4 linked regions of the Homo sapiens genome follow. The protein of the gene in region 4 purifies or fractionates together with the protein of the main gene of each other region. This does not show direct contact. Each region holds a gene or a part of one and is shown on either strand. Other genes may lie near its edges.

Evidence for each region. The genes of interacting proteins can lie anywhere in the genome.
Region 1: the proteins of IL22RA2 (region 4) and CTPS2 purify together in Homo sapiens (affinity purification with mass spectrometry; one large-scale study listed by BioGRID and IntAct). This does not show direct contact.
Region 2: the proteins of IL22RA2 (region 4) and GAS6 purify together in Homo sapiens (affinity purification with mass spectrometry; one large-scale study listed by BioGRID and IntAct). This does not show direct contact.
Region 3: the proteins of IL22RA2 (region 4) and TBC1D31 purify together in Homo sapiens (affinity purification with mass spectrometry; one large-scale study listed by BioGRID and IntAct). This does not show direct contact.

Annotation. Positions count from the first base shown.
Region 1 is NC_000023.11:16,688,414-16,692,300, forward strand, and holds part of CTPS2 (CTP synthase 2), read right to left. Parts: intron 3,208-3,887; coding exon 3,127-3,207; intron 1,189-3,126; coding exon 1,037-1,188; intron 1-1,036. UniProt on the Homo sapiens protein: Catalyzes the ATP-dependent amination of UTP to CTP with either L-glutamine or ammonia as the source of nitrogen. Constitutes the rate-limiting enzyme in the synthesis of cytosine nucleotides.
Region 2 is NC_000013.11:113,819,793-113,823,193, forward strand, and holds the end of GAS6 (growth arrest-specific protein 6 precursor), read right to left. Parts: intron 2,395-3,401; coding exon 2,166-2,394; intron 1,227-2,165; coding exon 1,072-1,226; 3' UTR 757-1,071; downstream 1-756. UniProt on the Homo sapiens protein: Ligand for tyrosine-protein kinase receptors AXL, TYRO3 and MER whose signaling is implicated in cell growth and survival, cell adhesion and cell migration.
Region 3 is NC_000008.11:123,128,076-123,131,962, reverse strand, and holds part of TBC1D31 (TBC1 domain family member 31), read right to left. Parts: intron 3,718-3,887; coding exon of another isoform or gene 3,683-3,717; coding exon 3,450-3,682; intron 2,898-3,449; coding exon 2,745-2,897; intron 1,766-2,744; coding exon 1,630-1,765; intron 1-1,629. UniProt on the Homo sapiens protein: Molecular adapter which is involved in cilium biogenesis. Part of a functional complex including OFD1 a centriolar protein involved in cilium assembly.
Region 4 is NC_000006.12:137,166,776-137,170,662, forward strand, and holds part of IL22RA2 (interleukin-22 receptor subunit alpha-2 isoform 1 precursor), read right to left. Parts: intron 1-3,887. UniProt on the Homo sapiens protein: Isoform 2 is a receptor for IL22. Binds to IL22, prevents interaction with the functional IL-22R complex and blocks the activity of IL22 (in vitro). May play an important role as an IL22 antagonist in the regulation of inflammatory responses.

The sequences.
Region 1 (3,887 bases), on a different chromosome or scaffold from region 4:
CAAGTGACAGGGACTTAATTTCCCTTTTTTTTTTTTTTTAAGATACAGGGTCTCGCTATGTTGCTCAGGCTGGCCTCCAACTCCTGGGCTCAAGTGATCCTCTCACCTCAGCCTTCCAAGTAGCTGAGACTACAGGTAAGTGCCACTGCACACAGCTTAATTTTCATATAACTTCAAAATAGAGAAACTTTGCTTAAATTAATATACTTGTCTGAAAGTTAGAATCCATCAGGAGTTTTAATAATTATGCTGAACAGTTAATGAATGCAGGATGAAACAAAACTAGCATAGCCAAAAGTTCCCATCCAAAATGATTTTCTTTAGGAAAAGTTAGCCAAATCTTAAAAACAAGCAAAACAAAACAAAACAAAAAACCTGTGAAGTTTAAAACTGTTTAAGGCCAGGCATGGTGGCTCATGCCTATAATCCCAGCACTTTGGGAGGCCAAGGTGGGCAGATCACTTGAGCCCAGGAGTTCAAGACCAGTGTGGGTAACATAGAAAAATCCCGTCTCTACAAAAAAAAAAAAATATATATTAGCCGGGTGTGGTGGTGTGTGCCTCTAGTCTCAGCTACTCAGGAGGCTGAAGTGGGAGGATGACTTGAGCCCAGGAGGTGGAGGTTGCAGTGAGCCGAGATCGTGCCACTGCACTCCCGCCTGGGTGACAGAGCAAGACTCTCAAAAAAGAAAAAAGAAAACAAACAAAAAAAAATTTTAAATATTCAGAAACTAAAAAATGAACTAGCAAATAAATCAAATAAATCAGAATCCTTCCAGAGCTAAAAAAACATTCCTTCCAGAATTCGAATTCCTTTAATTCACTTTGGTTTATGTATAACAAAATCAAAGGCTCCAGAAATCTTCAAATAATACAGCAAAGCACCGCAACAGTATGCTCCATCTTTAGACATATCCAGACCAAAATGTGCACACGCAAAATGCCAAATACACACGCTTACCCTTTCAAGTAGGTCTTAGTTCTACCCCCAAACTCAAAAATTATTAAAGATTATACAAGTAATTCCTTTCGCTTACCTGTCAGCCATATTTCTCCACTTAAAAAGCAAATTACTTGCAGAATCACCGATGGGCAGGTGCAATCTCTCCTTAAAATATTTCACAATGCTTTGTTCCTCTAAAAGCACAGGAACTCGGTATGTGGAAGAAACATCATGGATACATATGACCTAAGTGGCGATGAGAAATCACCATACTTAGATGGATCTATTCAAATATGCCACCACAAGAATGAAACAAAATTCAGCAGAGACTGGCAGTTTATTTACACTGATATAACACACACACACGCACACACAAAAACCCAGCAACCAAAGCTAGCATCAGAATTTGCACAAGGTTAGCTTCATTTAATTAGAAAACTAATCCCAGCACTATGGGAGGCCGAGGCGGGCAGATCACCTGATGTCAGGAGTTCGAGACCAGCCTGACCAACATGGTGAAACCCCACCTGTATTAAAAATGCAAAAATTAGCTGGGCATGGTGACATGTGCCTATAATCCCAGCAACTCAAGAGGCTGACGCAGGAGAATCGCTGGAACCCAGGAGGCGGAGGTTGCAGTGAGTCGAGATCGCACCATTGCATACCAGCCTGGGTGACAGAGCAAGACTGTATCTCAAAAAAAAAAAAGAAGTGTACACAAAACGATTGGACAGGTCAGGTGTGGTGGCTCACGCCTGTAATTCCAGCACTTTTGGAGGCTGAGGCAGGCGGATCATCTGAGGTCAGGAGTTCAAGACCAGCCTGGCCAACATGGTGAAACCCCATCTCTACTAAAAATACAAAAATTAGCCAGGCATGGTGACACACACCTATAATCCCAGCTACTCAGGAGGCTGAGGCAGGAGAATCGCTTGAACCCAGGAGGCAGAGGTTGCACTGAGCCAAGAGTGCACCACTGCATTCCAGCCTGGGTGACAATAGTGAAACTCTGTCTCAAAAAAAAAAAAAGATTGGACGCAAACAAAATGGCATGACAACATATCAACATACAGATGCAGAAGTGTCCCTTCAATCTGCCATCACATTTTTCAAAGTAGTTCAGACTTCGGCAATGACTCTGAGGCATCAGGCAGGGGGCTCTCCATCAGACTATTTTCCAAGATGCCAAAATTCAATTTGATCATTTTTAGACTTCAGAGAACCCAGAGTTATAATCTGAAGAAAAGATTTCTGCCAAACCTCACCCTTTTCCTGAGCACCATTTATATCACTCTCTTTAAACTATAGGTAACTCCAATCCCTTATAACCAAGCCTTATTGGAATCAAGAGACAGAGATGAGAGAAGGAAAGAAAAAAGAAAAGCGAATTATCAGAATACCAAGGTGGAAAGCCCTACAGAGCAGAGAACCTAAGCCCAAATCACAGTACAGTTTCTGTACCAATGAAGTCAACTGAGCCCACTGATGGAGTCAGAAGAGCTAGTGCGAATGTCAACGTGCTCGTGTGTTTGGGGTGACTTAAGCTGCCACAGGTAGAGAGGAGAAATGAGTGAAAGCAGTAAGTGTTCCAGAAGGAAACACAAGATAAAGAGATGATAAGTAGGCTTCATGTGGTTCTCTCTCTAGAGGTTTGACTGTGAGTTAAACACCCACCCTGGTACTGGGCACGATGGCTCACGCCTGTAATCCCAGCACTATGGGAGGCTGAGGCGGGCGGATCATCTGAGGTCAGGAGTTCGAGACCAGCCTGGCCAACATGGCAAAACCCCATCTCTACTAAAAATACAAAAAAATTAGCCAGGCGTGGTGGCGCATGCCTATAATCTCAGCTGCTCAGGAGGCTAAAATAAGAGAATTGCTTGAACCCAGGAGGCAGAGGTTGCGGTGAGCTGAGATCATGCCACTGCACTCCAGCCTGGGTGACAGAGTGACACTCTGTCTCAAGAAAAGAAAGCCCACCCTGGTTTTGTGACATAAGTTGAGTGATCATGCAAAGAAACATGCATCCTATCTCACTTAAGGGCTAGGGAATCATGGTTGGATCAGGGTTCCCCAGTGCTTGCATAAATGCCGTGAAAAGTAATATGATCATTGAAGAGGTACAAAACACTGGCATCAGCAGAAGTGCCTGCCAGACAATAAAATCTAAAGAGCAGCACCAACCTGTTCAGGGTTCACGTGACAAAACATAGAAATCTTCTCCTTCACGGCCATCTCAATGGGCGTTGAACTTCGGCAGACAATCTGTCAAAGCCAGTTATGCTTCAGCAAACAGGATTCACTTTCAGCAGGATGCCACATTCATTTCTTTTTACAAGAAACTTGGCCAAGTATGTACTTGTTCACTTTGGACATTCCACTGGACTATTAGAAATTGGTCTGAGCACTAATATAAGTATAATCAAATTCAGCATAAGTGTATCAGTAAGAACTCGAAACATCGAGACGTCTCTGGTGAACAGAGTCCAGGCTCACAAGTGTTGCTTCATTAACTACAAGAAAAGAGCTAGATCGGGGTTAACAAACTTTTTCTCAAAAGGGCCAGATGGGAAATATTTTAGGTTTGCAGGTGACACAGTCACTGTCCTGATCCTCAATTGAGGTGCAGTGTGAAAGCAGCTACAGACAATATGTAAATGAATGGGTGTGACTGCATGCCAATAAAACTTTACTTACAAAAACAGGCAAGCAAGTTGTGGGCTGTTATTTGTCAACCTCTGACAGAGACTACTGGTGATGACTGGATCACCTGCTATAAGGACACATCACTGTTTAGACTAAAAATAAGAGCAGCGGACTGGGCGTGGTGCAATCCCAGCACTTTAGGAGGCCAAGGCAGGAGGATTGGTTGAACCCAGGAGTTCGAGACCAGCCTCAGTAACATAGCAAAACCCTGTCTCTACAAACACACACACACACACACA
Region 2 (3,401 bases), on a different chromosome or scaffold from region 4:
AGTGACTCCGTGGCCCCCACCAGCTGCGGCTCCGACATCCTTCCAGGAGGCAGGCAGGGTCCCGACTGCATTTCAGGCACCTGCCTGGCCGCGTTCCGGCTGCCCTGACCTTCCCTGCAGACTTGTGGCCTGCTGGGGTCAGAGAGCACCAGTGACCGCTCCACCCCTTGCAGACAAGGAAGCTGAGGCTGAGGGACATGGGGACCCTGCCAGTGGGGACGCGGGAAGCAGGGCTGGCTTTGCTCCTGGCAAGCTCTACCCCAGACCGACACAGAGAAAGCAGTTTCCCTTTCTCAACAGAACACACTTGAGGCCCGGAAGCAAGTGGATCTGTGCAGGAGGGTGGGGACGGGAATGGCACAGGGGTGCAGGCGCTGCCTCGGTGTCTTCCGGCCCTCGGTCCCAGCTCGGGGTCCCTCCCAGGTTGGCTCAGAGGCCGCTGCCCCAGCAGCCTGCATTTGTGTGCCAAGCCCTCCTCACTCAGCAATGACTGGCTGCCTGTGGTGGGGGCCGAGCAGGGCGTTCTCCGCATTTACAGAACAAGTAAACTGAGGCTCCAGCCCCTGCCGCCACTACCAGAGGAGTCAGAGGCTCCTGGGGAGCAGACCGTGGCTGCCCAACCAGGCTGGGAGCAGAAAAGAGGGAGGGATCTTTGGAGCGGCTGAGGGTGCGGCCTGGAGCCCTGGCAGCCCCGCTCATCCCAAACGCTGCTACGTGTGCAGAACCCCGCGGGGAGCAGATGACGGCCACGCGGTGTTACAAAGCTTTCTGTAAATATTTTATTTTCCATATTTTAGAGTCAGAAAGAAGCGCTTGGTAATAAAAATAATAGAGAATTATTTTCTTCGAGCCCGCTCTGCGCTGCGCCGGCCTCCCCGCGCCCGGGCCCACGGCTGAGTGCGCGGCGTCAGAGGCCCCAAGTCCATCTCACTATTTACAGATATGTTACAGGCCGGGATGGTCACAGAGGAAAGCCCAGCTCTCAGCATGGCCCCACGTGGTGAGGAGCCCCCAGGCTCCTCCCGGCTGTCTCGGACAGAGACTGAGAAGCCTGCCGCGTCCCGTGGGGGCCTAGGCTGCGGCGGGCTCCACGGGGGGGCAGGAGTGGGCCGTGATGTCGCTGTGCTTGTACGCCGCCTCGTCCAGGTCCAGCAGCCTCCGGTTGACCTCCAGTGTCATGCAGCCGCGGTAGAACGCGGTGACTGGCGCTGAAGTCACCGGCACATCTGGGCCGCAGGGAGAGAACAACATATCTTAGCTCACCACGTGGCCGGCCCCGCCTGGCCCCCCCACCCCCGGCAGCGCTTGTGGCCAGCCCCGGGTTCCCTCCGAAAGGGCAGGGTTTCCCTTTCTTCTCTAACTTCTCGGTCCCCGTTCGTTTGGCCGCAGACCCGGCAGACAAGCAGGAGGCATCTGCCAGCCTGGGCTCTGCAGACGCCAGCCCTCCCTTCCCCGCTGGGAGCACAGACAGTCCCATCGGTTAAACGTGATCTTCTTCTGTGCCCAGTGAGTCATTCAGGCTGCAGGCCTCCTGGCTCGCTCTCATCCTCTTCAAAGCTCTGTTTATTAAAACTAAGTGGAGTCTGTGTCTGGCAGCCAAGAGAGAAATCCTGCCGTTTGCCGCAAGTGAAAACCTGCGGGCAGCCGAGGACTTGCCGGCTCCCACGTGCCTTTCCGCTGACCCTCCCAGCTCATGGCAAGGACATCCCCGGTCCCAGCCTCTGTGCTGTGTAGCCCATGGGACACGGCAGGACGCCCTGCTGGACATGGGAGGGGCTGGCGGTCACTCTGTTCGCTGCTAACAGCTGCGGTGACAGCCGCGGGTCCCAACTGCAGCCTGGCCCGAGGTCTGCCCAGCCCTCTCCCCCGGGGCTGGTCTGATGGGTGTGGACGAATGCTCCCTGAAGATGCAGGTTCGTGGGGCCTGACTCAGGCCAATGCCGGCCCCCGTACGTGTTTCTCAGTCTCAGCCAATGACCTGACCAGCACCGAGACACCATAATAGCCACTAACGACCCACCTGGACTTCTCCTTCCTCTTAAAACACAAGTCCTCTTCCGCATTCACTACCAGAAACCCCAGCCTGTCCAGGTTAGATCTGGGGTGACCAAGCTGGGCCTCCCTGGAGCTCTTCACCCGGGTTGAGCGGAGCAGGGAGCACCTACCTGGCAGGCCGCCAGCAAAGGTGAGCACGGGGCTCCGCAGGTGCCTCTCGAGCACGGCCAGCCTCTCCTGCAGCTGCGCGGCGCTCACCTCGCTCTGGCCCCTGGTGCCGTCCACCTCCAGGGTGGCCTCACCGTCCCTCAGCGAGACGGTGACCACGTGCTCTTGGCCGTCGCAGACCTTGATCTCCATTAGGGCCAAGGCCGTATGCTCCACGGCCAGGACCACCAGCTGCAGGAGACCGAGGTGTGGTCAGGGCCTGCCGGCCACCCCTACGTGAGCTGTTAGGTCCAAGCTGGTCCTCACAGCTGCTGGCCACCCCTACGCCGCACGCCTGTCTCCGTCCAGGGTTCCCTGCAGCCCTGGGTCTGGATGCTCGCTGACTGTGGATGACACCCCCACCCCACCTGGGGCTCAGCTTCTCTGCACGTAAAGCCAGGGGCCAGCCTGGGAGGCTGTGGGGGAACAAGTGTGGCCCCCAGGTTGGGTGTGAGAGGGTCAACCCCAGCCCCAGGCACCAGGCACACACAAGACCGAGGCTGCACTTGACCAGGAACTGGGGTGGCCCTGATGGGGACCCAGGACCCAGCCCTGCGGTGGCGGCCTCCCAGCCCGGTGGGCACTCACGCTGGCACCACAGCCCAGCAGCCCAGGGGTCGGCTGTTGCTACATAACAGCAGCTGTTTATTCCAGATGCTGAGATTGGGTCTGGCCCTGGTAACGAGCATTTGCATGAACCAAGCCTGTCTGTCGTATCCCAGCAAGCGGGAGGGCTCTGTGGCCCCGGGGTGGGCAGACTTGGAGAACGTGAGCCTCTCTGGTTTGACCCATGTCTCCCTCCTTAGCACACGAGCGAGAGAATAAAAGCTGTTTCTGTCACCTCTTGATTGTTCTGTGGGGAAAACAGCATGAGTCCCCCAGCCCAGGACAGCTGACTTATTGTGAGGACCGGGGGTGGGGGGACCTTGTCCAAGGGGCAGCTGCACTCAGCTCCACCCGGTGTCCCCCACGGAAAGACGCTGTTGGGGGACCGGCCAAGGTCACAGATCCGACTTTTCCAGGGAAATTGGAAAACTGAGTTTGTTGCTGAAATCATCTGACTTAAACACCAGAGACTAATTCAGATTGCTGTGAGCCACCATCTGCCCAACCGAACAGGGGAAAAGCTCCCACACTGTGAGCCGAGTGTGGCTCGCAGGCGCCGGCCCCCTCAGCTGTGTGGCGGTGACCTGGTGTCC
Region 3 (3,887 bases), on a different chromosome or scaffold from region 4:
GATGGACAAATGATACAAATATGTAATGTGTAATTCTACACATGGAAGATAAGTAACAGAAAAGATACTTAACCTCACTAACAATAAAAAAAGGCAAATTAAAATAGACGATTTGTCATCTATCTGCTTGGCAAATATTAAGACTGATGCAGTACAATTGACTATACTAGGGAGTGGGTACTCTTACAGACTTAAAACAGCTGAAACTGTTTCATTTTTAGAGAACAATTTGTCATAATTTAGAAGTTACTCAACAAAAGTATGTGTGCAAGTACTCAAAGACTTTTACAATGTAGCATGGTTTTGTAATTTGCAAAACACTGCAAATAACCGAAATGTCCAATAGCAAAGGATTAAATAAGCTATTAATTCAATGGAATATTATACAACCACAAAAAGAGAAATAGATACACATATAACAAATATGAAAAGATATTCAGCATATGAAATTTTAAAAAGCAGGTTACAAAAACAATGTATAATGAGAATAATCCCATTTTTGTATAAATATAGGAAAACATGACTATAATTACTCCTCTATCTATAGAACATACCTGAAAGTCTATGTAATTAACCTTTTTTTTTTTTTTTTTTTTTTTGAGACTGAGTCTCACTCTGTCGCTCAGGCTGGAGTGCAGTGGCATGATCTCGGCTCACTGCAGCATCCACCTCCCAGGGTCAAGCAATTCTCCTGCCTCAGCCTCCTGCGTAGCTGGGATTACAAGCGCCTGCCACCATGCCCAGCTAATTCTTGTATTTTTAGTAGAGACAGGGTTTCACCATGTTGGCCAGGCTGGTTCCGAACTCCTGACCTCAGGTGATCTGCCTGCCTCGGCCTCCCAAAGTGCTGGGATTACGGGCATGAGCCACCGCACCCAGCCAATTAACCATTTTTTAATAGTGTTTCTCTGGGGATGACATGAGAACTAATGGAGAAGGTCAATTTTTAATTCTGTATGTTTTGTACTGGAAATTATTTTTATACTGGCCACAGATAATTTTTATATGAAAAAAGAATATGTCCCCTAATTAAAAATTAACTGCCGGGCTTGGTGGCTCACGCCTGTAACCCCAGCACTTTGGGAGGCCAAGGTGGGCAGATCACCTGAGGTCACGAGTTTGAGATCAGCCTAGCCAACATGATGAAATCCCGTCTCTAAGAAAAATACAAAAATTAGCTGGGTGTGGTGGCGTGCACCTGTAATCCCAGCTACTTGGGAGGCTGAGGCAGGAGAATCACTTGAACCCGGGAGGCGGAGGTTGCACTGAGCTGAGGTCACGCCACTGCACTCCAGCCTGGGCAACAGAGCAAGACTCTGTCTCAAAAAAAAAAAAAAAAGAAAAGAAAAGAAAAAATAACTTAATGGCTAACTGATACTGATATTTCTAGTTTTAGAGAAATAGTCACCAAGGACACTTGACTAATTTTCCTGGCATTTCTTAAATATTTAGCCATTCATGAAATACAAAAGAGAATGAGAAAGCTGAGGGGAAAAGTAAATAAAATTAAAGCGGCTATTTAGTATTCATGGTGGACTCTAAGAATATTATTTAATTTGAAGGTGTTCATTACATTTAAGTGAGAGTAAATGGAGATGATGTATGAGAACTAAGTTAAGAATAATAAACCTTTCTCCCAATTTCATCATCCAGTCTTCTTAGTTCCATTTCCTGTTGATCTTGCTGAAGCTTCAGAAAACGCCTTCTTGCAGCATCTTGTAAGTGCATTTCCTTTACTTTCAGCTCTCTTTTCACAGCAGCTAGCCTTAAATACAAAATACATCAAGTGGAACAAATACAGCAATTCCTAATATGATTTAGTTTTTTCATAACAGGTCTGCCATGCTGATCATTTCAATACAATTGATATCCTTTATTTGAAAGAAGAATGCGAGAACTGCTCCACCGTTACCAAAGATGATGTATACTTATGCTTTAAGAATTTTAGTAGAAAGCTCACTGGCTCAGTTCAGTAATTCCTTTTAACCCACACTATAAATCTGTTACATAAAGTTCCATCTAAGAATAGGAATCAATAAACACAGAAGTGAGTTTCCCAACTATTGGGCTTAGTCTCAATGTTTATCCCATTACTTTACTTAATTTACACATTTTACCTTATTAACATACTTTTATGTATTTATTTTTAAGTTTTTTCTTTTTATTTTTTAAGAGACAGGGTCTCACTATGTTGCCCAGGCTGGCCTTGACCTCCTGGGCTCAAGTGATCCTACCTAGTAGCTGGGACTATAGGTATGTGGCACCACACCCAGCTAACGTACTTTTGAATACGCATTTAATACTCATTCCCCTGTCCTCCAAAGTGTTAAATGGGTAATGACATAATCATTCTATGTTACAACTGTCAGGTCACACAGGTATGTTTAAAACACAATTAAAAAAATTATACTCTACTAAAGGTGATGTACCTAGCATTCTATTACAAAGCATTTCTGCCCACTATAGAATAATGTTTCTAAATAATGTCCTTCAAGGAACATTAATCCATGCAAAGCTATATTATATTCAGCATAGCTTCAGAATTACATTTTACTACATAGCAATTTTTTTTGAAAAGTGGTATATAAAGATTCTTTTTATTAACTTAATAGTTGCTTTATAGAAATGCTACAGCTGGGTAATCCTATATATAATGTTGTTTCTAAAATGAAAAAATGAAAGAACATAAAAATTATTCAACTAACTTATATGTCCAGATTTTTTTTTAAAGTGATAACACATACCTCTGTCTTTGTTGTATCATTTTCTCCTCCTCTTGTAAGAGCATTTCTCTTCTTGTTTCTTCAGCTTTACGAAGCAGCTCCTGTTTCTGGTACCAAGCTTCATCTTCAACTCTTTGCTGGTCGACTTTAGCTTGCATATCTTCAACTGTCTGCCTTAAGTAGGTAATATTATTATGAAAACACAAAGAAGAAAGCTAAGAATCATCAAAACACAAAATGTATACCGATTAATGTATAATCTATTTTATTTCCATATGCAAGAATTAACTATCTTTAATATTTCTAGCCTTCAAACTCTGATTTTACACAAATACTCATAATTTAAATGCATTTTTTTTTTTTTGAGATGAAGTCTCACTCTGTCGCCCAGGCTGGAGTGCAATGGCATGATCTCCGCTCACTGCAACCTCCTCCTCCTGGGTTCAAGTGATTCTCCTGCCTCAGCTTCCTGAGTAGCTGGGACTACAGGGGCGTGCCACCATGCCTGGCTAATTTTTTGTATCTTTAGTAGAGACGGGGTTTCACCATGTTGGCCAGGCTGGTCTCGAACTCCTGACCTTGTGATCTACCTGCCTTGGCCTCCCAAAGTGCTGGGACTATAGGCGTGAGCCACCGCGCTCAGCCAAATGTATTTTTCATTAAAACTTTCTTATGTTTATAACATATTTCATTGTATCAGAAAAAGAAAAACTATTCCATAATTACCTCTCTCTTAAGTAATCCAATTCATCATTCCTTATTCTTTCTCGTTCCTGTGTTTGATAGTCCACAATAAACTTTGGATATTGATTAAATACTGGATACTGCCCTTTTGTCAGTGCAACAAAAACATTAAGCATGCTGTCTGGATGAATGTCAGTAGGCGTGGTCTCCATGAGATGATAAACTTGTCTAATCACAACATTTATATCCAGGTTATTCCGATGGTGAAAAAAAAACTGTAAGAAAACTTGGTGTTTAAATCGAGATTTACCTGACAAAGCAATTATGAGGTAGAATTAAAACAAGAATTTAAAAAAAGTGTATCTATCTTTAAGAATATATATTTTTTTGCAAATTCATTAAAGCTTTTCTTTACTCAAGTTTTACAACAAAGACAATTTATTTAAAAAATGTAAGAGTTTCACAATCATAAGAAATTCT
Region 4 (3,887 bases):
AAAACTGCATTAGAGACTCTTGTAGGATGGCATTTCTATTGCTGAGCCTAACTGCCATCACTCGAGCCATTTATGAGTAATGTTTAACTTGTGCCCCAAACAATCCACAGCAGGGGCCAACATGGCCCCCAGGGATTCAAGAAACTGGAGCTACACCCTGTGAAAACCTGCATGTGGGCTTTACTGAGCTGCCTCGAACCGGAGGCTACCGGTGCATGCTAGTGTTTGTCTGCACTTTCTCAGGGTGGGTTGAGGCATTTCCCACCAGGACAAAGAAAGCTCGGGAAGTAACCAGAATCTTACTAAAGGACATTATTCCTAGATTTCGACTGCCTCTAACTTTAGGATCAGACAATGGCCCAGCATTTGTGGCAGAAATAGTACAACAGCTAACACAGAGGTTAAAAATCAAATGAAAACTGCATACAGCTTATCACCCATAGAGTTCTGGAAAGTTGAAAGAATAAACCGGACACTCAAACAGCCGTTAAAAAAGTTTTGCCATGAAACTCATCTAAGATGGGATCAGGTGCTGCCCATGGTCCTTCTCTGAGTCAGGTGCACCCCTACTAAATTAACTGGGTATTCACCCTATAAGATAGTGTTTGGCCGACACCCTGATCATAACTCAGATAAACGGGGATTTAAAAAATTGGGGAATTAACCTTAAGAAGGCAAATGCAAGCCTTAGGTGAGGTCTCGCAGGAAATGCAAGGATGGGTAAGAGAAAGAATACCTGTTAGCCTCACAGATGCAGTACAACCCTTCTAACCTGGAGACTCTGTCTGGGTCAAACAATGGAACCCAACCACTTTAGGGCCTTTATGGGATAGTCCCCATATTGTGATCTTGTCTACTCCCACTGCTGTTAAAGTTGCAGGTATCATACCTTGGGTTCATCATAGCCGGCTGAAACCAGAAGCAGCCACCACCCAGGACCAGTGGACAAGTCAACAAAACCCAGACCACTCAACATGGCTGATCCTGTGGTGAAACCAAGCCACTGCTGACAAGGACAACTGCCCTGCTTCAACCACACCAGAGGCTGGTTGGTCCACGCACGGCTGAAGCTTGAGGAAACATCGAGCCCTGTTCTAGTCACACAAATGGAAGCTGACTAGTCTATGCATGGCTGAAGCCTGAGGAAGTCAATGATACATAAGTAAATGTAGACTAAATTTACAAACATAGTTATACTCTTACTTGTAGTAATTATTTTGCTGTCATGTTATCTTTGCAAATGCTGCCAAGCTTGTTGCCCAGAAAGGTGCCCATGCATAGTATAAGTTTAATCATATTAGTAATACTGAAGCCACTGACACTTTCACCTATGGTTATAAAAGGGGACCAGGATGACTGTCATCACTGTATGATAGAAGCCTGGTCTGGAAAAGGTGTGACTAAAACTCTGTTATACCAGACCTACTATGAGTGTACAGGGACTCATACAGGAACTTGTTGTTTATAACCAGACTAATTACTCAGTCTGTGATCCTGGAAACGGGCAGCCCCAAATATGTTATGACCCAGAGTTCTTGCCCTATGACTTCTTATTTGAAGTCCAAATTTGGTGAACCCCTAATGCCATCATATACAAACCCCACAGAAACTGGGGTCAGTAAACTTGTAAACAAAACGCAAGTATTCACTTACGCGCATAAAGGGCCCGTCTCCATATATTTTGATGCCTGCCAAGCTGCACATCTCAGTAAACTAAATAATATTTGGACCATCTGTAAAAATCTAGGACAAGAAAGAGTCAGCAGCAGAGCCACCAAGGCCATAATAGGAGAGTCCGAAAAAGAGTGCCCTGATTGTGATAATCAGTGGACCACACATGAATTTAATCAGCACCTATACACTGGAAGGGCTGCTCTGTTTGCCAGCCAAGAGGAGAAGATAGGGTACACAACTGGAACATGCTACCCACTCAATCTGACAATACTAAAGCCAAATATGACTTTCTGGACTAAAGGGCATAAAGGATTACTAACCTTTGATCAGGCAGGAGCTCTCCTAGGACTTGGTATTCCTCTGGTCATCACAAAGAAAACCCAAAGGACTCAAGTTCAACTTAGCCCAATACAACAGTTCAGGTTTTATAAATCTTTCAATGAACACTTTAATTCTGAAGTATCAAAAATTCAAATTCCTCCTATATCAACTGAAAATCTGTTTGTCCAGCTAGCCAAAAGTATTGCTAACAATTTAGGAGTTACTTCCTGTTATGTATGTGGAGGTGCTAATATGAGAGATCAATGGCCCTGGGAAGCCAGAGAATTGATGCTGCAAGACAATTTTACCTTGCCTGAATTTGTTACAAAATTCAATGCAAATCCAAGTGTTTGGCTATTAAGGAACCCCATCATTGGAAAATACTGTATTGCCTGTTGGGGCAAGTCCTTTCAGAACCAGATAGGGGAAACAACTTGCCTAGGTCAACAATATTTTGAAGAATCTGAGAACAGAACACAATGGAGAAGCTTTATAGATGATTCCTCTGTGTCACTTTAATCCCTTTTTGCAGTTCCCAACACTAAATCAATCATGGTACCAATTAGAAGCTCCAACTGTTTGGAGAGCACCTGCAGGATTATATAGGATCTGTGGAACAAAGGCTTATCAATTACTAACCGATAAATGGACAGGGGCATGTATATTAGGAACAATAAGGCCATTCTTTTTGCTACTCCCCCTGCAGCAAGGGGAAGATCTAAGCTATCTGGTCTATGATGAAGGCAGAAAAAGAGTCAAAAGAAATGTGTTTACAAAAATAAGTACTGAGGAAAAAATAAATACTAACATTAAAAAGGACATTGAAATAGGGGGCTGGAAAGATAATGAATGGCCCCCTGGGCACAAGATGGGTCATGGGGATACTGTACTCCTATTTATATGTTAAACCACATCATAAGGTTGCAAGCAGTTCTGGAAATTATAGTCAATGAAACAGCCTGAGCCTTAGACTTGCTAGCCATACAGGCAACCCAGATGAGAGATGCCATTTATCAGAACAGGTTAGTACTGAATTATGTTTTAGCTTCAGAAGGGGGTTTGTGGAAAACTTAATTTAACAAATTGCTGCTTACAAATTGATGACAATGGAAAAGCTGTCATGGAAATCACTGCCAGGATGCGGAAGTTAGCTCATGTTCTGGTTCAGACATGGTCTGGTTGGAACCCGAGTTCACTCTTTGGAGGACGGTTTTCATGGTTTGGAGGCTTTAAAACTGTAATACTAGGCTTTGTGGCCATAAAAGGTGGATGCCTACTGCTTCCCTGTCTCTTGCCATTTCTAATCGGAAGCATCCAATCCACCATAGACTCAATGGTAGACAGACATACCACCATCCGAATAAAGGCTCTGCAAAAGTACCAACTGGTATCCCAAGATGAGTATGTACCCACTCAAGAAGAAATAGCTAACTGTGGTGCTCTTTATTAATCTACATTTGTGTCGAGCACCAAAAGGGGGAAATGAAGAAGGAATTAATGAAATCAACTATAACCTAAGAGTAGTAGTAATACAAATTTTAAAATCCTTTTAAAGTTCCTGCAAAATGTGACCCCTGCCTTACATTCACGTTAAAAGGGAATATTAACAGCCTGTCTTCTCTCTGTGGACAGTGGACCTTATCTATACTCCCCAACTCCACATTCCTCAAAGTTTATTACAGGCCCAGTGAGTTCCTGCATGACTGCAGGGTCACAAGACTGATAAGTTTAGGCTGCAAGACATGTCTTTCTCAAAATGTAACAAACGTTGTAATACTGCCTTTGTTTCTTGCTTCTGTAACTCGATTCCCGCCTCACGTAGTTCCCACCTTAAGATATTTAAAAGTAGGAAAAGCCCTTTGTTTGGGGCTCAGACTAGCTGAGCCGGTGAT